Linked DNA regions of Homo sapiens: regions 1, 2, 4 and 5 are each linked to region 3. The links come from fine-mapping of genetic effects on plasma protein levels. Region 3 holds a variant in brackets. A gene starts in each other region. All regions are shown on their forward strands.

Region 1 (4,466 bases), not on the chromosome of region 3:
GAGGCAAAAGGGAAGGTAGTTATAATTTATGAGGAACAATGGAAAAGATCAACAGGTTTCAAAAAGGTAAACCAAGATGGTGAGAGAGTTTCAAACTGTTATCAATTCAAAGAAATAGGAGTATTTACTTTTGAAGTGGGTTTTGGAGTGGAAGTTAGTAAGATCTTTTATGGATGGATGGACAGATGGATGGATGGGGGTGGTGGATGGATTGAAGAGTTAAATCCCTAAACACCTCACTTTGAGAAATGTAGAAGCAATGGAGCAGTTTTTTCCCAAACAGATTAGATAGTCAGACAGACAGGCAGGCTATTTATTGAATACATTCTACATGCCAGTATTTGGCCGAACCCTCTACATATACCAGGTGCTTTCTTCTCCAAACAACCCTTTGGAATTCCTATTATCCTCATGTGGAAAGTGGTAAATATGAGGCATAGAGAAATTAAGTGACCTGTCCAAAGTCATTGCCAGGCTGAGCTCAGACTTTGTGCTGTTAACCTCTAGTTTATAACCCTGAGTGACACTCAAAGGTGGCCTACTCAACTCTCTCTTAAAGAAATAACTTGCTGGCCAGCGGCAAGGAGTGCAGTTAGCTGACAGCCTCTACTGATAACCTCCTCGGGCTCTGCTTCAGCTTTCAACCAGAGACCATGTTGTTTCTGAGGAGGCCCAGCTAAGGACCGAGCACGGTTGGGGTAGAAGAGTCTGAACATTTCTGCCCACCATGGGCCCCTCTAATAAACAGTCTTTCCTCTGGAGCTCCCCACTGAGCTGTTGTAGACTTCACCAGATCAGCATTGCAATCTGAGGCTCCCCCTGCCCAATTCAGCCTCCTTCCTCCTTCTGTCTATCGCAGGAGTTGTTCTGAATAACCTTCTTTTACTCCAATGTCCATCTCAGCATCTGCTTTGCAGAGGACACAACTGGCACACCCTGCCTTCATATATTTGGATTGCCATCATATAGAAGACTGTTTAGAATTGTTTTGTGTTGTGATAAGGGGTTGAATTAGGACAAAATTCAACCCCTTATCACAACACAAGCATAAACAAACTGCTAGGGAAGCAGCTTTCACATATACATAAGGAAGAACATCGTAACAACTAGAAGTGCCAAACAATAGAATAACCTGCCTCAAGATCAATGAGTGCCCTGTCACTGCGTTCAGGCTGACTGGAGAACTGCTTTTGTGTGAAGGTTGTGTGGCATTACCACTCCTCCACTTCTACCCCCATGAATACTGAGGCACCTGGGATGCTAAACATCCACAATGCTAATTGATTAGCAAAAACCAAATTGTTTAGGAAATCGCGCCAGGAAGCCCAAACCTCTGATTTCTTAGCAGATCAGTGGGTCTGGTTTGATACATCATCCTTGTCCACTTCCAGGGCAGTTTAGTGGTACTCTAGGCCAGACTAGCCAGTCTACATACTTTTTTTTTAATCAAAGAGCTTCTAGAAAATGGGATAAGCTGTGGGCTGATTGTCCCCATGGACTAGTTGGTGGGATCAAAACCTAACTTCACATATGTTTATGTCAGACTGTAATATGGGGTTCACCCTCTAATGCAGTTCTAATGACTCCCTCCCCTGCCACATGGTTCTCAAGCTCATGGACTTGCACACGACAGCCAGAGAGATTCTCTTCCTCAAGGCTGTTGTCTCCCTCCCTTCATGCAGACACAGGCACACAAAGCAGGGGACTCCTACTGCCCCCTTCTAAGAATTCCATGATGGTCAGATTATATAAGTAATCATATATTTCAGATAGCAAAATAAGAGATGGAAAAGACTGGTAGGAAAATCAATAGCATAATCAGCGTTAGGATCTGTATATAAAGAGACATTCATTTGCTGTGCAAATATTTACTGAGCACCTACCAAAGGCCGGAATCCCTTCCACATGCTAGGGACGTGATGCGCTCGACGGAGTCCCCAATGTCATGGAGTATATATCTAATGCCACTGAGAAACCTGGCTCACCCTGCACTGAGAGAAGCACTCAAAACCACCATCACCAATAGCGCTACTAAAGACAGTGCTTTGGAGCTTCCAAGCTGATAGATTATCCTTTCTCCCCACCCTCAGATTTCTCCAGTGTCTCTGGCACTTATAGTCCATGTTTGCAAGAAATATTTTATTATAGTGCTCTGAAACAAATTTATAAAGTTTGCAAGAGAAGTTTTAAAAAAGCAAGCTCAGCAATATTTGGGGGCTTTTAAAGCTGATGATGCAGCTGACCTACTGGAGACAAAGGCAGTGGGAGGGCCCTTACTGGTATAAATAAATAGGAGTCTCTGGTACTGCAAACCCACAGCCTGGACTCAGAGCTCAAGTCTGAACTCTACCTCCAGACAGAATGAAGTTCATCTCGACATCTCTGCTTCTCATGCTGCTGGTCAGCAGCCTCTCTCCAGTCCAAGGTGAGAAATTTCATTTACATTTCACTGTTTGTTGAACAGAAATAGTCTTTAACCACTTCAATTTTCTTTCGATTAAAAACCGCAGGGAAGTCTGACTAAAGGGGGAAAAAACTGCTCTGTTCCTTCTAGATTTCTCAAAGTAAGGTGTTTAGGAATTTAACTCTTCAAAACTGGAAGTATTTATATTGTTAAGATTTTTATTTATAGCAAAAAGAGATACCACAAGTCCAATATTCATGTGAATTATATATTCCCAGCCTTTTTCTGATTCAGCTCCTGCTATATATAATTCTTTACATGTAGCTCTTCTTTGTTCTGCCTCTCAATGTTACCCACTCTGACCAAACCCTATACAGGGTTTAAAGATTATTGAACTCTACTGGTCTCTTGCAGTGAACATGCTTCATGTAACTCCAAATGGTTAGATCTGACATCAAGTACACCACTGTCAGTACACCAGGGGTATTTACACACATTCTGCAAAGAAGCAGACTTCCATGTCTAAGTGGGGCAGCTATCTTTGTGTCAATAGATAAATATCCAGTTGAAGTAGTAAGTTTTTATGTGGCCGAAGAAATGGATATGTGCAGAAAGAAGCCTTCTGCTCAGATTTAGAAGGCCAAATTTTTGTTCTTAAAACACAGAGGAGCTTTGTCCCCCAGTTTTAATTTTGCTTCACATGTTATTTTCACTCTTCAAAACCCTAATTTCTTGCATTCTCCACGGGGCTTTCCCATGGCTCCCGGCAGAGGTAGCTCTTAGTACATCTTCTGTTCTCAGCATGCATGTTAGATTTTGAGCGTAATACAACCTTCTGTGGTATTTTAGTTTTTGTTTGCTTGTTTCCCCTACTAACTTGTACACACCTTGAGAGGTGAGCCTTTTTATTTATAAATGTATGTCAAGCACAGTAGTAGGCTGGATAGAAAAGATCTGATAAATGTCTTTGGCTTAGATTTCATTAGATCCCATTAAAATTCATGAGATGGATACTAATGGTACCCATCCAGTATTAATTGCTTTTGTTAAATAAAAAGACTTTTGAATTTTTATGATTGCCTTTTGTTCTGTAATGATTTGCAACCCAGACAGAGGACCAACATATCAAACAAAAACGTCTGTGACATTTTCTGAGAGGAAAGGGGAGGATGGCAGAGAGTCTGATAGAGAAAACTCTGTTCCAGCATGTTATTGCTCCCAGGACTCTTGAGCCAGGTCATGTCCTCGGTTTTTATGTGTTGGGAGTGAAGATAATCCACTGGTTTTATATTGCATTAATTATAACTGAGTTGTAAGTCCCTACAGAGGCTGTTCTCAAATTTTATTATGTGGACTATCACCTGAGTACAAATATAACACTATCACAAATTTCAAAATTGCTGTGTTTTTTTGAAAGCTAATTTTTGTTTTGTTTTCTTTTTGCTTTGTTTGTTTGCTTTCTGAGATGGGGTCTCCGTTTGTTGCCCAGGCTGGTCTCAAACTCCTGGGTTCAACCAATCCTCCCACCTTGGCCTTCCAAAGTGCTGGGATTACAGGTGTAAGCCACTGTGCCTGGCCTAAAAGCTAACTTTATTTTTAAAGTTTTGGTAGAAAACATTTGAAAATACTCAAGCCAAGACAAGCAGAAATATACAAACTAAAGACATATGGGTGGAAGCACTGACTTGAAACTTTTAAGTCTTCAAATGCACGTTATGAAAGATTAGTAATTAAATTCTAGTTATGAATTACATGCCAATGGATTAAAATAACTGATTCTGTGTTTACTTACAGGTGTTCTGGAGGTCTATTACACAAGCTTGAGGTGTAGATGTGTCCAAGAGAGCTCAGTCTTTATCCCTAGACGCTTCATTGATCGAATTCAAATCTTGCCCCGTGGGAATGGTTGTCCAAGAAAAGAAATCATGTAAGTTTCAAGAGAAAAATAAATAAGATTTCCTTCTCCCAATGAAATCAGATCAAATGTTACCATACAGTAGTCTTACTCAAGAATGTCGAAGAGATTTACTTGAGTGTTGCTAAAAATTCTCAAACTAATAAT
Region 2 (4,489 bases), not on the chromosome of region 3:
TATTCAAAGAACACAACTCTAGAAGGCCTTCACAGAACTGTGTGAGACAAGAGTGGTAGATGCAGAGCCTCCAATGTCAGTCCTGTTGGGACCTTCTTCTTCTGGGATGACCATCCTCCAAGGACACAGGGACACTGGCTAGGAATCACAGAGACCAATTCCACCACAGCTAACTGGTTCAGCCTGCTTTCTTCACACGTGATGGTGGATAGATTGGTTTTCTATTCTAGTCAATTAGATTGATTGGTTGTTACTGCCTGAAGAAAAGTGTGGTGATACAGCCTCTTGGCTCAACAGGAAAGAGTGCTGGAGGCCACTGGGAAGATGCACTGGCCGGTGGAGGTAAAGATGCCATGGTGGGCAGAGCAGAAATTAGGGCAAAGGGGCAGGATATGCCTGTGTTCATCGGCACAGCATTTAGACCAGGTAAGCAAACTCTTACTGTAAGAGGCCAGACAGTAATATTTTCAGTTTTGTGGGCCATACAGTGTCTGTTGCAACCACTCAGCTCTGCCATTGTAGCCTGAGAACAGCCACATATATGTATGCAAGTGAGGACGGCTATGTTCCATTAAACCTTTATTAGACACTGAAATTTAAATTTTTTGTCATTTTCATGTGTCATAAAATAGTATTTCTCTTTTGCTTTTTTCCTACCATTTAAAAATACAAACCTCATTATCAGCTTGCAGGCTGTTTTAGCTGATTTAGATGAATAGCTCAGGAAGTAGCTCTATATGTAGTTCCAAACCTCCAGATTCCAGCACCAGCCTGTCTTTAAAACATGGGGGTTTCTTCCTGCAGGATCTCTGTATATTTGGACTCCTTTCTCCATAAGGTCCCTCCTAATGCTGTAGAGAGTCCTGGGCCCTGTAACCTCCAGGAGTCCCTGAGGCCTATGCATTTTCAACTGCAAAACACCCACCACCCCCATCTTATAGGATTTTTCAGAAGGTGCAAATATCTTTGGACCTCCAGCCTACAGTTTTTCAGGCAGATTCAAGTAGTTCAGTGGTTTATCCTGGAATATTTTCTTTTCTTGGTTTCCAAATAACCTCTCATTACCCTCATTCCCTTAATCTTCAGAATGTGGCCACTCTCAGGCTCAATGAGGCCTTTTCTGCAACTATCCAAAACTCAAGGTTATATTATACATATGGGAATCATTGCATAACCCCAACCCAACATGTGTACATGTGAAGGAAAGTGAGCATGGCAAGCCTGATATGCAGGTGCAAACGTGATATAGCCAGTAAGTGACTTGGAAGCTCTGCAGTAGGGTGGGTAACTGCAGAAGGCACAGGCCAGAAAGGCTTCATGAAGCAGGTGGAAGTGCACATGAGCCTGGAAGACCCAGTAGTATATCCATGAGGGGCAGGACTAGCCGTTGAGTGATGTGGGGGATGCATGGATGTTTAAGATGTGGTCAGTACCTTACATTGAACACAAAAGTGTCCAGTTGAGAGGATTGTGTGGGCTTTGGTGATGTACTAGATCATCAAGACATAAAAGTGGATGTGATTGATTAGCATAGGGATTTACCAGGCATTGTTAGATGCTTTATATTAGTTATCTTATAAAAAAAAATACTCCTAAAAACCTCTGAGGAACATAATATTATCCTCACTTCATAGATGAGAGAGCAAAATTTCAGAGAGGTATGGTAACCTACGAATTCACACCGCTAAGAAATCAAAACGGCAGGATTGAAATCCAGGTCTCCTTGGCTCCACAATCACCAGATTAACTAGGTTAATCTCTAGATTACTCTAAGCAATGAGAAACTGAAGAAAACTAGAAAAACATTATATGAAACACTTTTCAGAGGAAACCAGACAATATGATCAATGAAAGGTGATTGTCTTGCAGTTCTACTTCCTTTCCTGGCTCTACTTGCTGCTGCCCGGTGCCCATTCATTTGTCTTCTTACTAATAGTACATTTAGGAACACTTATGTAAAAAGAGAAATGGGATAAACTATCATGACTCTGTCATTACAAATATAAGAAAATAGAAAAAAATCTGTTAAAGTGAATTACAAATGTGTATGGATTAAGCGGCTTTTTAAGGATTAGAATAGTTACCAAATGTAAAAAGGAGGAAGAAGCTCATCCTTGAAAAACATCTAAATCTGTTCCAGGTTGGCGGGGAGAAAGTTCTCCTAATCAAAGTGCCAGAAAACTCTGAAGCCTAAACCAACAGGTGCAGAGATACTCACCAAGGATCAAGGAGAATAGCAGAGCCATGACCAAGGCAGGTGAAGGTGATGAGCTGAAATTTAAGGCTAGAAGGAGGTCCCCAAGCAGCAATATTTAGTTTTAGCTGCAAGTATGTTAAGAGGAGGGACAAAGACAGGTCCTGAGTGCAGGCAAAGCATTATCAGATGATCAGAAACCAATAGACTCGGGGGGCAGAGCTGACAGAGCTGGACTTGCTGAAATCAGCATGTTCCAGAGGAAAGGAGGTGGCCAGAACTGGCGGAAAAATGCTGAAAACAAAATAGAAACAGGCTATCATGACTTGGTTCTGCTGTAAGTCCAGCTCCGTCTGTCTCTCCTACAGCCCCTTTGCTATGTAAACAGAGGAAACACCTCCCACAAGGAAAGGCAGGTGCCAAAAATATGGCCATCTCTCAGTAGAAGACAAGGCAGTACTTAGTCGCCAAGGATGGTTTGCAAGGGAAATAAGCCAATTTTGATTCCTTTACCCCAGAGGGAAGTGCCTAGAAAATTTGGAAGCCAGAGGCCATGGGATAAATGCAGAGTTGCCCTTGGAGGCATATCCCATAAAACATAATCCAGGGTCATGGTGCCAATCTCCACATACAGGCCTGGCTTTATTGTCTTCAAACCTGCTTTCTCACTGCTAAGCAGAGGGTCCAATATACAGATTTGTTATTTTTCTATGCTTGTGCTGGTGTATGCCCATCTTTGGAAGCTGGATGGAAACAGATCCCTGAGGTGAGGGGCATCATAATCATTGAACTCAAGTTGTCTGTAGGTCTAAGACATGATGGACAGAGATTAAGCAGTAAGACCCTCTCAGGCCCCTCTGCTTTGCTATATTATTAAGTATAGCTATGCTTCATGAGCTATTCTACTCCAGATTGATCAAGCAATCAATTTTGTATGCTGACATAATCTCTGCATTCCAAGCAGGGTAATTGTTCCTCTACAGTAATAATTTTTGCTTCTTTGTAATATTCAGGTAACTCAGCAGAAAGCTTGGTTCATTGTAGGCATTCATTTTTAATCCCACATTTCTTCATTTACTTAGTATTGTATTCAATGAAAAGTTTTTAGCACTCATGAATGCCAGGCAATGTGATGGGTGGAGGCAGTACATGAAGGAACAAGGGATAGTTTTGCACTGTAAAAATATATGGTCTAGTAATTGCAATAACATGTGGAAACCACTGTTAAGAGAGAAAAGTATAACAAACTTTGGAGGCCAGGCGAGGTGGCTCATATCTGTAATCCCAGCACTTTGGGAGGCCGAACTGGGAGGATAGCTTGAGCCCAGGAGTTTGAGGCTGCAGTGAACTATGATCAGGCCACTGAACCTCAGCCTGAGTGACAGAGTGAGATCACATCTCTAAAATAAGAAAAAGAAATGAAACCTTGGAGGAAATGGTTACTATGTTTGGAGCTAATCAGAGAAGACTTCACAGCAATGATGATACTTGAGCAGGGGTTTAGGATGAGTTAAGTGGAGAATCAGAATAGGAAAAGATTTTGCTATGCATATGCAGACAAGTGAAACAGCATTACTTATTCAAGGAACCACAGGTAGTTTGGAATGACTGGATTACAGCCTGCTTAGTGATCAGGGGCCAGGGCTTCTTGATGTTGAAAGGTAAAGACACTAGATGATATGCAAGTAGCAACAAGAGCCAGATAATGGAGGGTATATCATGAATGAGTTTGTAAATGCTAACTATTCACATCCTTCCCTCTCTAGATTCTGAAGTGACACAGTAATAGGTACAGAATTCAGAAAAGGTTCAAAATATCATCTTTACTGTTGATGAACTACATTAGACTGCCACTGGGATCTAAGGCTTTATGCATTTACCTCCATTCTTCAGGAGCTAGATGTGCACAACAGAGTTTACCCTTGGAAAAGAAAAGACTTTGTGTGGCTTGAGGGCAGACAAACCCATTAGCAAACACAGGCTTCATGATTCAGAAATATATTTTCCCCATTCCATGTGGAAAATTGAGTGAAAGAAGAAGAGAAAAGAAAAAGAAAACTTTTCCTCCCAATATAGTATTTTATGAACAGGCGTGAGAACATGAAGAAAGGAAAAGGAAGCTTTTTAGCCAGGAAGGACACTATCCCACAGGACACAAGAAGCCACCGAAGGGTGTTACACATTTAAGGTGTGTATTTTGGCTGCAGCACTGAGCAGGAATTGGGATGAAGACCAGTAATGGGTCATTAAGACCCATTAAGAGACCACTGCACCAGAGAGAGCAGAGGAGGACTT
Region 3 (4,489 bases):
CAAAAAATCAAGGAGGGTCTCCTTTAACTCATTCTGGAAAGCCAGCTTCACTCTGGTACCAAAACCTGGCAAAGACACAACAACAAAAAAAAGAAAACCACAGGCCGATATCCCTGAGGAACATAGATGCAAGATGGATTACAGATTTAAATGTAAGACCCTAAACTATAAGAATCCTAGAGAAATCCTGGAAAATACCATCCTGGACATTGGCCCTGGGAAAGAATTTATGACTAAGTCCTCAAAAGCAATTGCAACAAAAACAAAAATTGACAAGTGGGATCTAATTAAATGAAAGAGCTTCTGCACTGCAAAATAAACTATCAGTGTAAACAGGCAACCTACAGAATGGGAGAAAATGTTTGCAAACTATGCACCCAACAAAGGTCTAATATCCATAATCTATGAGGAAGTTAAACAATTCAAAAAGCAAACAACAAATAACCCCACTAAAAAGTAGGCAAAAGACATGAACAGACACTTTTCAAAAGAAGACATGCAAGCAGCCAACAAACATGACAAAATGCTCAACATCACTGATCATCAGAGAAATGCAAATCAAAACCACAATGAGGGACCATTTCACACCAGTAAGAATGGCTATTGTTAGAAAGTAAAAAAACAACAGATGCTGGTGAGGCTACAGAGAAAAGGGAACGCTTATACGCTGTTGGTGGAATGTAAATTAGTTCAGCCACTGTAGAAAGCAGTTTGGAGATTCCTCAGAGGACTTAAAACAGAGTTACCGTTCAGCACAGCAATCCCATTACTGGGTATATATCCAAAGGAAAATAAACCGTTCTACCAAAAAGATACATACACACGTATGTTCATCACAGCACAATTCACAATAGCAAAGACATGGAATCAATCTGGGTGCCCATCGATGGTTGGATAAAGAAAATGTGGTAAATATACACAATGAAATACTACACAGCCATAAAAAGAAAAATACGTTTTTTGCAGCAACATGGATGCAACTGGAGGCCATTATCCTAAGTGAATTAATGCAGAAACAGAAAATACCACATGTTCTCACTTATAAGTGAAATGCTAAGTGTCGAATACAGATGGACATAAAGACAGGAACAACAGACACTGGGGCCTACTAGAAGGGGGAGGCAGAGAGAGAGGGCAAGGGCTGAAAAACTACCTATTGGGTGCTATGCTCACCACCTGGGTGACAAGACCATTTGTACCTCAAACCTTAGCATCAAGCAACATACCCATGTAACAAACCCTACACATGTACCCCCGGATCTAAAAAAAAAAGTTGAAATTATAAATAAAATAATAATAGAAATAAATGGAGTCTGCAGCACTGGTGGAGGGCAGGTGGTGGCTGCTGCTCAGGTGCTCACACAGGTGGGTCTGCTGCTTACTTGTGCCTGTGCTTCAATGACTGGCACAGCCTCGGCAGCCTCTAGTGCAAGGCTCTTCCTCACACGGCAGGTCCTTTCTCCTGCTTTCTTCTTGTCCACAGACTTCTGGAAATGTTGCCTACATTGTTTTTTTTATCCTGGGATGATCTCCCTGGCTTCTGGCCATTTGCTTGGACTCTGGGCTTCATGCATTGTGGACTCTCCTGTTCTAGGCCTGGCATCAGGCCTCCCACGCTTTCTCACCCTGCGTGACACCATGCAGGTTTGCCTTGGGTGGCTTACCTGGACTTGCTTCTGAGCCTCTGTGCTCCAATCCTTGGTACCTTCCCGAGTTGTCTGAATTGTTTTCAACTTCTCCACTCCGCTGTCTCCTGAGCTCTGGTGGAAGGTTCACTGGGCTCCTGAGCTTGTTCTCAC[A/G]GAAGTATGCACATTGCTTAGGGTGCTGTCCACAGATGGAGGCACAGCTGATGCAGTCCCTCAGGAGATGGTCATAGAACTTGCCTTGCTCCTTGCGGCAGCTGAGTGACCCTGGGAGAGAGAAATTCATGATACTGCTGGGTGACACAGACTAGCAGGAACTCTGGGTTTGACCACAAAGGACATCAAAGTTAAAAAAAAAAATACAGTAAAATTCCAGAAGGCAATTCCAGAGTAAGCCAAGTACTTTTACAATATACACATTGAAGACTATGCATTGTCCTCTAAGTACTATTTTAGCTGCATTGCATTTTGATGTGTAGTATTTTTCCTCTACCTAGATCAAAATGCACTTATTTTTCATTATTATCTTTTCTTTGACCTATGGGTTATTTACAAGTGCATTTCTTAGTTTCCAAACGTATGAAGATTTTCAGTTATCATTTAAAATTTAGATCTGGATTACATTGTTACATAAGACTTTTACTTGCATTTTTCAAGCCTCATCAAGGAGAAATATATTTCAAATCAGCATAAGGAAAGAAGGGGAAAAGCCAGAATCCTCTTTGACAAGCTGGGGGAGGGGGCTGGAAGGAAGGTGGAAAAGTTCACATGAATAGTGTTTCTTCTGTCTTAATACTAGATGAGAATTACAGCAGCTTACACAAGTATCAGTGCCAAGGCACAGAAGCCAAGGAAACTAAAGCCAAATCACACTTGCCTTAAGAGAGCACAGTGGACCCAACTTTGAATGCATAAAGAAACCTATTTGGAACAATCAATTATCTTATCTAAAGTCTCAGAATATTTCTAATTTTTTTTTTTTTTTTGAGAAGGAGTTTCGCTCCTGTCACCCAGGCTGGAGTGCAATGGCACGATCTCGGCTCACTGCAACCTCTGCCTCCCAGGTTCAAGCAATTCTCCTGCCTCAGCCTCCCGAGTAGCTGGGATTACAGGCGACCACCACAACACCCGGCTAATTTTTGTATTTTTAGTAGAGATGGACTTTCGCCGTGTTGGCCAGGCTGGTCGTGAACTCCTGACCTCAGGTGATCTGCCTGCCTCGGCCTCCCAAAGTGCTGGGATTACAGGTGGCATGAACCACCGCATCTGGTCTAGCCTCCGAATATTTCTACATGGAAGTTTTTACGTGAAAAAGGCAAGTTTCCTTTGTATTTAGAGTAAGGTATGGCTTTTGAGATGTCCTGACTTCGTAAATATGAATAAATAAATAAATAAATATGTATAAATAAAATATATGTGGCTCACACATATATTTTAAGGACACATTTTGGAGACAGTGCAGGATAGTGGATAAGAACCCAAATTTCAGAACCAAATTTCAGTTGGGGCCATCCCTGGCTGTACCACTTGCAGGCAGTGTGGTCTTAGCCTCTCCGTGCCTCAGTTTCCTCATTTCCAACATAGGGAAAATAACAGTACTGACTTCTTCGTAGGGTTGTTGGCAGAGTTGTAGGGCCCAGCACAGTGCCTGGCACATACTAAATGCTCACGTAATGGAAAGCTTAAGTAGAATATTCATTTGAGCCTCTTCACAAAGCAAACAGATCCGTTCTTGTGTCTTTGACAGAGTAAAGGAAGGAACTAAAAGATCACGGAATTGGGACCTTAGGGAAAACTCAGATGGCCCACATAGGGCCAGTGACCTCCCCTGCTCTGGCCCTGCCCTATCCCCAGGGCGCCCCTGAACCGCACAGAAACTGACACCTCCACTCTGCATCACACAGGGTTAGCCCAGCATTGGTGTCCTTGGGGCTTTCTGTGACCTCCTCCCCTGTTGCAGGTGGTGCTGTTGCAGGTGGTGCCTGAGTGCCCCAGCCCACTGACCCTCCCTGCCTGACCTCACACCCCTCCCTGCCTGACCTCACACCCCTCCCCTCCCCCGCCTGGGACTCAGTCCTCCCCACTGTGTTTCCCTCCTCTGAGCCTCTGCTCATAGTGCCCTTTCTTCCAGGTGCCCATCTGATTTCCGCATTCTGTGACCTCTTAACAATCTGCCTCTGATGGTGCTTCCTCTAGGGACACCTCCCTGCTCCCCAGCCCTTTAGCTGAAGGGGGTCTCTCCCAACTGTGGCTTTCTACCTTGACACATAGTCATTTCTCCCATTAGATGACACTGTCTTTGAAGGGCCACGGCAGATTCCTATTTCCATGGGGCTGGAGCACTCCATCTATGTTTGTGGGATGAACCAATGAATGTTCTAATTCATTAATGGGTAGTGGTTCAGGTCATGATTTAGGAGTCGGAGTCCTGGGTTCAAACCAGGATGTCGCTGTGACATCTCCACTTTTAAACTGGGTGATCTTGGGTGAGTCACTCAGCCTCTCTGAGTTCCCCGCAATAAGTATTCATGAAGGACTTACTATGTGTCAGGCACTGTGCTAGGCTCAAGTCAGACATGGTTCCCCTGCCAGGGAGCTCCCAGTCTAGTGGTTGAGTCAGACATAAAACACATACACATGAAAGAACAAAACAGCAAATTGTGGTAAGTTCTATCAAGGAAAAGAACAGGTTATGAAAAAGAACAGCAAGCAACGAATAATTTTCAAGACAATCAGGGAAAACTGGATATTGCCTGAGTATTAGATGATGTTAATAAATTATTGCTGGCAGTGATAGGATATTTGGATTATGTTTCACAGGTTTTCGTGGTCCAGTATCTGCAGGT
Region 4 (4,488 bases), not on the chromosome of region 3:
CTGCTTTGAGAGTTTCCAGGATGCAGTGCAGGTAGGAGGAGTCCACACAGAGCTGGTGGTCTCCATGAGATGAAAACGCAGACGTGAGGAGCTCTCTCTCCTCCTGTACTCTGTCCTGCTAGATTTAAAATCTAGCTTCATGGAGAGACAGCTTCAGAAGGCAGTAAAACAACAATTTTATTACTTCATCAATGACATTCTTAAGTGAAACTGGCTCTTTTTCTTTTCTTTTATCGTCCTCTTCTTTTTTTTTTTCTTTATGCGTGGCAGTGAAAAATACTAAGATGGCTGGGTATGGTGGCTTACGTCTGCAATCCCAGCACTTTGGGAGGCCGAGGCAGGTAGATCACCTGAGGTCAGGAGTTCGAGACCAGTCTGACCAACATGGTGAAACCCTGTCTCTACTAAAAATACAAAAATTAGCAGGGTATGGTGGTGCATGCCTGTAATCCCATCTCCTCAGGAGGCTGAGATAGGAGAATCGCTTGAACCTGGGAGGCAGAGGTTGTAGTGAGCCGAGATGGCACCATGGCACTCTAGCCTGGGAAATAAGAGTGAAACTCCTTCCAAAAAGAAAGAAAGAAAGAAAAACACAATGACTACAAGTATAGATTTTCCTCCTCAATAGTACAGTTTTGTGTCCTGTATTGACAGTTGCTAAGGTGCCAGCATTTTTACCCATCATTGCTTTTGCAACATCAGTGCAAAGTCTATACAGTAGAAAAAATGAATCTTGTTTTGGTATTATTATAAAAGTTGATTTGACTTTGGAGACAGCCAAGAGGGTCTTGGGGAATCCCCAGTATCCATGGACCACACTTTTGAAAACTATTGTTTTAATAGAACCTTCTGGTCATTACTACTTTGATCTAATGGCGCCACTTTAAAGGTGGGACTGGGTGTAGGAACATCCTGCCATGGCAGCTTCATGGAGAAGATCTGTTTTGGCAATTGGGTCCTTCATTTCCTTCACATCACAGTATGGAATCTATACTATAATGGAGGTAAAAATTTCTCCACTTGAGAACAGTGTTATCACTGTATATACAACACATTTTTTCCATGATGAAAAACAGGGTCTGAAACTTTAATTAAAATGGAAAAGTCATTAGTTATCTTCCATGGGAAGAGTTTGAAGAAAGGAAAAGTTGAAGTAGGGCAAAAATAGCAGATATAAGGTATTTCTAAACGTTTCCCAAATGAAGGAAGAGAGAAAAGAATGAGCGAAGGAAAGGAAAAGGGTATTTAGTGTGTAAGACACTAGAAAAGATATGCATAAGGAATGAAGTGATACATACATAGTGGTGTTGGATTTGTAGATTCTTGGAAAGTTGGCAGAAAAGCTTACATGTAAAAAAAAAACCAATGTATTGAAATCAGTCTCACTAGCTATGTGGAATGTTTTAGATTTGTACCAGATACAATACGTTTGTGGTGGATACAGGAGATGCGCTGCCCAGATCTGCCCCCAGGGAAGGACCCTGCTCCAGCTGTTGGAGGCCGGCTGGCCCACAGCCTCTAGCAGTCAAGCTCTTTTGGCTGGAAAGCCGCTTGCAGGAAATCACTCCATGGAGGTGCAGAGATAAGGCCCCAGACATTTTGGCCCAGTATGGGACAACTTTGACCGTCTTTTTCAGCTTCAGGACTCCCATGGAGTTGGGTGAGGTTGTTGGGCCCGCTTTGCTGCTAACTTCTCCCTCTGTTCTCTCCTGTTCCCCTTCTTCCTCCCACAGGGGTTTGTCCCAAGGGCACTCCCTAATACACATCCTGCATGTTAAACTCTTGTCTCAGAGTCTGCTTCCTGTAGATACCAAACTGTAAGAACATCTTATTGACTTAAATATAACCAAAATTGGAGAAACTTAGGAAACAAAATCATCATTACGTTATGTGCTGACATTTTAGCTTATTTCTATATTTCTTGTTTTGAATTGCTCATACTTAGCATGATAGTACCTCTCACATTTTGTTTCATTTAGGTTTGCTATTTCCACGTTCTCTTTCTTATAGGAACCATATTGTGAAAAGACATAAAGGTAATAGGGTAAAAAAAAGCAAATAGGCTCTTTATTACCCAGCCACTCAGGAAATGCACTATTTCAAGGTTGACCCAGGCAGCAAGAGAGGAGCTGTATTGGGGAATGTGACAGTGGTTTAGTTCTGAAACTGGAGCCAGTAGAAAGTTCTGAAGGGGGTCCGATGATCAGAACTGTCTGTGGGTTTAATAAAGGTGTATTTAATTTTATTTAAGCCTGGAGATTTAAATTGTCACTCAAAACTCTCAGACATGAATAGGGTTAGCAAATCTGTACACCAGGAAAGGAGTTATTTACATCCTGTCTTCTCCTACAGCTCCAGAGGAGGGCAGAACAGTGTATTTCCAGGCAAGCCCTCTCTTTAAAAACTCATAGCCAAGGCTGGGAAGACAGAGTGAGTGGGTGGGCCTTCTGGCAGCTTCCTTACCTTCAAATCTTTGCTCTCTGTGAAATGGTTCTGCTTCAGTATCCTTGTTCTGATTTTTCTGGGAACTAGATGTTACTGGGAGATGACTCAGAGCAGGCCAAGCCCTGATCCTCACTGTGGAAGCAAAAGAGGCTGGTGAAAGTCACTGTCCTGACAACTTGGACCAGAAACCTACAGACAAAACTGAAATGTTTTCCTGCCCTAGGATTATCTGGATAACAATGACCTTTGATGTTACAAAGTAAATAGAATTGTGTTTGGCTTTTCCTTTTGGGGCCATGCCTTGGAGAAGATGACTCCTTCAGAGCCGCTGTGAATATTGTAGATCTCATTATTTCAGATAATTACTTTGACCATCCTTTTCAATTTGAGAGTATGATGTGAGGCAAGGCAACTATTTGTGAGAAAAAAGAGAAAAGGCAAAGATCCACTGTCATACTTTTGCTTGTGGGTTCCAGTCCAGGCTTTCTATGGGGGGTGGGGGGGTGTCTCAGTCTCCCCGTCTGTAAAATGGGATTAGTGGATTAAATCCGGGAAGGTTGGACAAGCACCTAGGACGGTGCCTGGTGCCGTGTTCAGCAGACGTCGATTCCCTGTCCACCCCTTCTTTAGGAGCTGTGGGAAACACTTCATAACTCCCCAGGGTCTGGTGAACCCTTCCTCCCTTTTCTGTTCCCTGTTTTGGCATTGGAGATCATAAAAAGGCTCTTCCATGTCTCTTGCTTCCTTCCTTTCATCTTCTCCAAGAGAAGGAAGTGGCCGCCTTTGTTAGCTTGGGTTCAGAAGCTTGTGTCTGTCACCCAGGGCCGCCCAGCCCCGGGGTTTGCGAAGGTCCGGGGTAGGAGGGCTGCAGCCTGCGCGACGCGGCGGGAGGCTACCCGGGGGCGATGGGAAGGCGGGCGCAGTCGACCCAAGGGTGGAGAAGAGGGAAGGCGAAGGACGCGCGTTCCCGGGCTCGTGACCGCCAGCGGCCCGGGGAACCCGCTCCCAGACAGACTCGGAGAGATGGCAGGCGGAAGACACCGGCGCGTCGTGGGCACCCTCCACCTGCTGCTGCTGGTGGCCGCCCTGCCCTGGGCATCCAGGGGGGTCAGTCCGAGTGCCTCAGCCTGGCCAGAGGAGAAGGTGAGGGGCTGTTTCTGCGTAGTTGTACTTGAGCGGCTCTGGTCCGATGCGAGGACCCCTGGCCGGGTCAGCCCTACCTAGGCAGAGCGGGAGGCGGGGCAGGGCCACGGTCCCCAGCCCAGGCACCGGCGCCCCACCCGGCGCCCGGAGGAGTCGGGGCTCTGCATACTCGCCGGGGTGCCTCGGCCAGTCCGGGGCTGTTCTGGAGACGCCAGGGGGGCTGGGTGATGTCACTGGCCTCTCCTGGGCTGCGGTCTGATGGGGGTGCTGATAGGCACAGGAAATGTGTCTCGCCGGCGGCTGCTGAGCCGGGAGGCGAGGGCGCATCGCGGCGCCACCCCCCACTCGGGACCCTGGAGGGCAACGGGGCCGGCGCTCCGGGGCCGCTAGGGTGCGGGGTGCGCCTGGGGGTGTGCCCACAGCCCCCCCGCTGCTTCATCCAAGGATGCTGCTGGGGCGCTGAAGTGTCCCTACAGTCTCAGGACGGATGTGTGTTGTTTGTTTTAGATTTTTAAAAGGAGCAACTCGGCAGGAAGGACCTTTACTGGAGACCTGCTTACTTCAAAAGCCTTTTTCCTCCACTTAAAAGAGGGTACCTGCTATTTTCAGAGAAAATGGATCTAGTTGTAGGTAGAAATCGCATATAAGGAACTTAGGATAAAAGTGATTTGCAAGTTCCCTCTGTAAGAAGTGTATGGGTTCGGCCGGGCGGGGTGGCTCACGCCTGTAATCCCAGCACTTTGGGAGGCCGAGGCGGGTGGATCACGAGGTCAGGAGATCGAGACCATCAGGGCTAACATGGTGAAACCCTGTCTCTACTAAAAAATACAAAAAATCAGCCGGGCGTGGTGGCACGCACCTGTAATCCCAGCTACTCGGGAGGCTGAGGCAGGAGAATGG
Region 5 (4,489 bases), not on the chromosome of region 3:
TTCTCTATAATGCAAGCTCTATGAGACCTAGGACTTTCCTTATGTTCACCATATATCCTCCAGGACCTATAACGGTGAATGGCATATAAAAGATATTCCTTTAATGTTCACTAAATATATTTGTGTTGTATAATGAATTAATTAAAGAACTAGGTTAATAATATAGGAATAGAAGGATAGAGATTTGAGAAATGGGTAATGAAGAGAGAGAGGACACAAAACTGGCAGGTTTATCAATTGAGTAGGTATTCTGCATATGGGTTGATTTATTTATTCAACAGATTTTTGGAATGCCAATCATACTCCAGAGCAAGGCAATAGAAATCCAGGAGTGTGTGAGAGACAAATCATCCCTGTCCACATGAGGCTATTGGAGACTTATCCAAACTTAAGTGTTTTACTGAGAACAACAAATTATTCACCATTCACCTGAATATTTTGGCTTCCTTCATCTTTGCATTGTTTTAAATGAAGCTAATATTTTTGTGAGTGGTTTCTATATGGTCTGCATTTACGTAGGTTATTTCATATAACCATGTCAATAATCCTGTGAGGTAAGCACTAGGATTAACTGCATTTTGTAGACCAGGAATCTGGTAGCCAGTAGGTGGCAAGATGAAGTTTGAACCTAGATCCTGTTTGACCCCAGAGCCCATGTTATAAACTTTGCCCTCTCATGCTCAGGACCTGGCCATTACCCACATTGTGTGGGGCCACACTGAGATGTATTCCTACTTCAGGAATTATAGTCCATGCACCTTCCAACTGTGAGGTCCTCTTTTCTTATATCACGCCTGCTCCATTTCTGCTCCTCTAGCTCCTACTCACCTCTAAGTTTCATGAAGTCTTTACTAGCTATTTTGAATACAGTTTATTATCTGCCTACAGCATTCATTGGTAACTTTGCCTGGACAATTATTTAACTGGGAGCTTGTTGCATAGCTGCTTGAAAGTACATTGGCCTTGCTGGGAGCCCTTCTATGTCATGACTTTCCAGAACATAGACGTAGTGTCTCCTATGGACTCTAATTGCTCAGCACCTGTGCATAGATATTACTAAACACATTTGCTGAACAAATAAATAAACATATTTAATTATAATATTTAACCTTTAGTAAAAATCAACCAGTTCGCACATATGAGTTGATAGAGACTTACGTACACCCACAGGGACAAAGAGAAAGTCATATGCTTTAGATTTATCCTTGCTTTGTCCACCTACGCCTCTGCGACCTCCTCCACCCCATGTTCTTAATCAGCCAATTGCTGCAGTGGTTTGCAATTATGTACAAGAGAAAGACCTGTCTTTCCCGTTAGAAACCTTGCCTCTTATGCTGGGGACCAGGATCTGGCCTTGTCATACAAGGAATAAATACATCTCCTCTGCAGAGAGGAGAGTGGGCTCTTCTATGAGTAAGACAATATGAACAAACAAACATGAAACATTCTCTGGACTTTAAGAAGTACTTTTTAAAGAAAAAAATAAATGAAATTTTAATTGTTGTGGTTATTGTGGTTTCCTACTCTGTAAGATTGAAAATTCCTTCCAGCTGTGGCCATTTTCTTCAGCCTCAAGAGAAAGCCCTGAGCTACAGAGTAAAGTTCAAAAATACAGTCTCCTAATGTAGGAGAGAGTCTCTCAGCAGGGGCTGAGCCCCAAGAAAGGACCAGGCCTGCGGTGGAGAGAGAAGCTGTCCCGATCCCACCCAGGGCCCATGGTGAGCCCTTTTACTCACCCAGGACCAGTAATATCACCCACAGCAGCATGAAGACCTGGACCACCAAGGGCTGAGATCAAAAGAGAAGTTTCCTCAATTCCAAAACAGGTTTGGACTTGATCTTACAGTCAGGACACTGCACACCAGCTCCAAGGAGCACATCTGAGAAGCTGTGCTCTCAAAAAGAGCAGAATGCATTAGTGAATTGAAAAAAGGAAGTGGGAGTACCCGTCTTCAGCTGCTAATCACAGTTTCCTACCCGATGATCAAAGAAAAAAAAAAGTTAAGGTTTTAAAAAATCAAATACCCTTGACCCTACATTTTTGCTATTGGGAAATTACCCTGAAGGAAGTATCTGAAGAGAGTACTATAAGAACGTTTATTGTAGCATTCATTATTGCCTAAACACTGGAAACAAAACAAAAAACCATGATATGGGGACTGTTTAAGAATATTCTGATTCATCCGTATGGTGACAAGCAATCATTAAAGAATAAGGTAAATCTGAACATGCCAAGAAGGGAAGACCACCTTGTTTGATGTGAAGAGAATAAAAGTGAGATATAGATTGGTTTTGTAGTATTATCCCATTGGGTAAATATAAAAAATAGGATATATGTGTACATCAACTCTTTTAAGTATACTTTCTTCTTTTCCTGGAAAGTACACACAAAAATATTGATTATGTTTGAGGAGCAATAGGTGGGAAGAACACAATTTATTTTATGTATTTCTGTACCGTTTGATTTTTTAAAAAATTACCAGGTGAATGTATAGCTCTTATGATTTTCTAAAAGTCAAGTTTCCATCCTGGTATACTGGTCAACAGAGGTTCCTAAGACATTAGCTGCCACGAGGAGTGCCAGTTTCTTTCTTTCAAATATTTTCTCACCCTTTCTCTCTGGGCCCATACCTTGGTCTTCCTAAGGGGGCATTTAATTTTATATCTACAAATGCACATCACCTTAGGTATATTATGTCACATCTGACCCACTGCACCCTGAGGCAAGAAAACCATACAGGGGTTACAGGGGTGAATAGAGATTAAGAGGAGAACTTCAAAGGGAACACAGAATCTTTACCTACTTTTGGTGCTAAAACAAATAGTGCTGCTATGAACATTCTTGTATACATTTATTGGGGCATATGCGCACATAATTCTGTTGGGTATATATCTGGGAGTGGAAGTCCTGGCTCATAAGGTATGCATATATTCAGTTTAGGAAGTATTACCAAATTATTTTCCAAAGTGGTTGTGCCAATTCCCACCACACCCACCAACCAATGTATGAGAGTTATCATTGTTCTAAAATTCTTGCTGATATTGGTATTGTCATCTAGTAAAATCTGGCCGTTCTGCTAGAATTATCTCAATGTGGTTTTAATTTGTATGTCTCTGGTGAATTTGAGAATGAGCATTTTTTCATAGTCTAATTGGTGATGTAGATATCCTTTTTATGTGCAATCTCTGTTCAAATATTTCCTCATTTTTCTCTTAACTTTCAGTCTTTCTTTTCCTGTTTTGTAGTTATTTTAAACCCTGAATATAAACCTTTTGTTGGATATATGTATTGCAAATGTCTTCCTTCAATCTGTGGCTTGCTTCTTTGCTCATTGATAGTGCCTTTTGATGAACAACCATTCTAACTTTGACATAGTCCAGTTTATCAGTCTTCTCCTTTGTGGTTAGAGATTTTTGCATCCCTTCTAAGAAAGTTAGTCTACTCCAAGATCATAAAGATACTCTCCCAGGTTATCTTCTAGAAACTTTATTTTTTACCATTTATTTTATATTTATAAGAGCATTGCAATTGATTTTTGTGTACAGTTTGAGTGTTTATATTCACTTTTAACTTAAATACAGATAATTTATCCTGCCCTATTTATTGAAAGTTGATTTTTTCCACAGTACAGTGCAATTTCACCTTTGTTATAAAACAAAAAGCCATGTAGGTCTATTTTTGGAAACTCCTTTCTTGTCCATTAGTCTATTTTGTCTATCCTCATGCCAATACCACACTCTTCTAATTATTGTGGCTTTATAATAACTCTTATTAACTGATAGTTTAAGTCATAAAATGCTGTTCTTCTTCAAAATTGTTATGGCTATTTTTGGCTTTTTGAATTTTTCTATACATTTAAAAATCACCTTGTCAATTCCTGTCCCCTCTCTCCCCAAAAGCCTAGTAGATTTTTAATAACTGGGATTGCATTGGATTTATAAGTTAATTTGTATAAATTAGAAAAGATTTAGTCTCCCAATCCATAAACATACAATATCCCCTCATTTATTTAGGTTAACTTGACATTCTTTCAGTAATTTTCTATAGCTTTGCCTCTGGAAAGTATATCTTTTGGTAGGTTTATCCTTAGGTTATTGATATGTTTTTTATGATATTGTAAGTGACATCATTAGATTTTTTTCTAAATGTATATTGGTATATAGAAATATAATACTTTTTTGTTTTACTGACCATTATTTTTATTTTTTTGAGACAGAGTTTTGCTCTTGTCCCCCAGGCTGGAGTGCACTGGTGCGATCTTGGCTCATTGCAACCTCCACCTCCCAGGTTCAAGCGATTCTCCTGCCTTAGCGTCCCAAGTAGCTGGGATTATAGGTGTCTGCCACCATGCCCAGCTAATTTTTGTATTTTTAGTAGAGATGAGGTTTCACCATGTTGGCCAGGCTGGTCTCAAACTCCTGACCTCAAGTTATCTGCCCGCCTTGGCCTCCAAAAGTGCTAGGATTACAAGCGTGAGCCACCATGCCC

Which allele goes with the higher level. Alleles are on the strand shown, and positions count from the first base shown. The strength of an association depends on the size of the effect and on how common the allele is.
In carriers of allele G in region 3, the plasma level of the protein whose gene starts at base 2,316 in region 1 tends to be higher than with A alone (weak association).
In carriers of allele A in region 3, the plasma level of the protein whose gene starts at base 2,353 in region 2 tends to be higher than with G alone (weak association).
For the plasma level of the protein whose gene starts at base 3,367 in region 4, A is the high allele of the variant in region 3 and G is the other (weak association).
With allele A in place of G in region 3, the plasma level of the protein whose gene starts at base 1,920 in region 5 is higher (weak association).

What was found. PIP is the posterior inclusion probability: the model's chance that the variant is causal. The UK Biobank Pharma Proteomics Project read protein levels with antibody pairs (Olink). The fine-mapping took linkage between variants from a reference panel, not from the people measured, so its PIPs are less certain.
Region 1: it holds the start of CXCL13, and the variant in region 3 is fine-mapped to the plasma level of the CXCL13 protein (UK Biobank, PIP above 0.99).
Region 2: CD5L starts here. The variant in region 3 is fine-mapped to the plasma level of the CD5L protein (UK Biobank, PIP 0.99).
Region 4: it holds the start of QPCT, and the variant in region 3 is fine-mapped to the plasma level of the QPCT protein (UK Biobank, PIP above 0.99).
Region 5: FCRL5 starts here. The variant in region 3 is fine-mapped to the plasma level of the FCRL5 protein (UK Biobank, PIP above 0.99).

The regions. Positions count from the first base shown.
Region 1 is chr4:77,603,505-77,607,970 of GRCh38, forward strand. It overlaps CXCL13 (C-X-C motif chemokine ligand 13), which reads left to right and starts at 2,316. Exons shown (of 4, transcript NM_001371558.1): 1 at 2,316-2,425; 2 at 4,199-4,331. The coding sequence starts at 2,362.
Region 2 is chr1:157,839,456-157,843,944 of GRCh38, forward strand. CD5L (CD5 molecule like) reads right to left here and starts at 2,353. Exons shown (of 6, transcript NM_005894.3): 1 at 2,219-2,353. The coding sequence starts at 2,246.
Region 3 is chr17:16,947,074-16,951,562 of GRCh38, forward strand. It overlaps TNFRSF13B (TNF receptor superfamily member 13B), which reads right to left. Exons shown (of 5, transcript NM_012452.3): 3 at 1,665-1,910. Among named protein-coding and RNA genes, the nearest start is that of TNFRSF13B, 23 kb to the right of the region's middle. The variant A/G (reference allele first, on the strand shown) is at 1,800.
Region 4 is chr2:37,341,264-37,345,751 of GRCh38, forward strand. It overlaps QPCT (glutaminyl-peptide cyclotransferase), which reads left to right and starts at 3,367. Exons shown (of 7, transcript NM_012413.4): 1 at 3,367-3,588. The coding sequence starts at 3,469. It overlaps LOC124907754 (a long non-coding RNA gene), which reads right to left and starts at 3,792. Exons shown (of 2, transcript XR_007086284.1): 1 at 2,464-3,792. RefSeq lists a silencer at 3,738-3,797.
Region 5 is chr1:157,550,596-157,555,084 of GRCh38, forward strand. It overlaps FCRL5 (Fc receptor like 5), which reads right to left and starts at 1,920. Exons shown (of 17, transcript NM_031281.3): 1 at 1,737-1,920. The coding sequence starts at 1,767.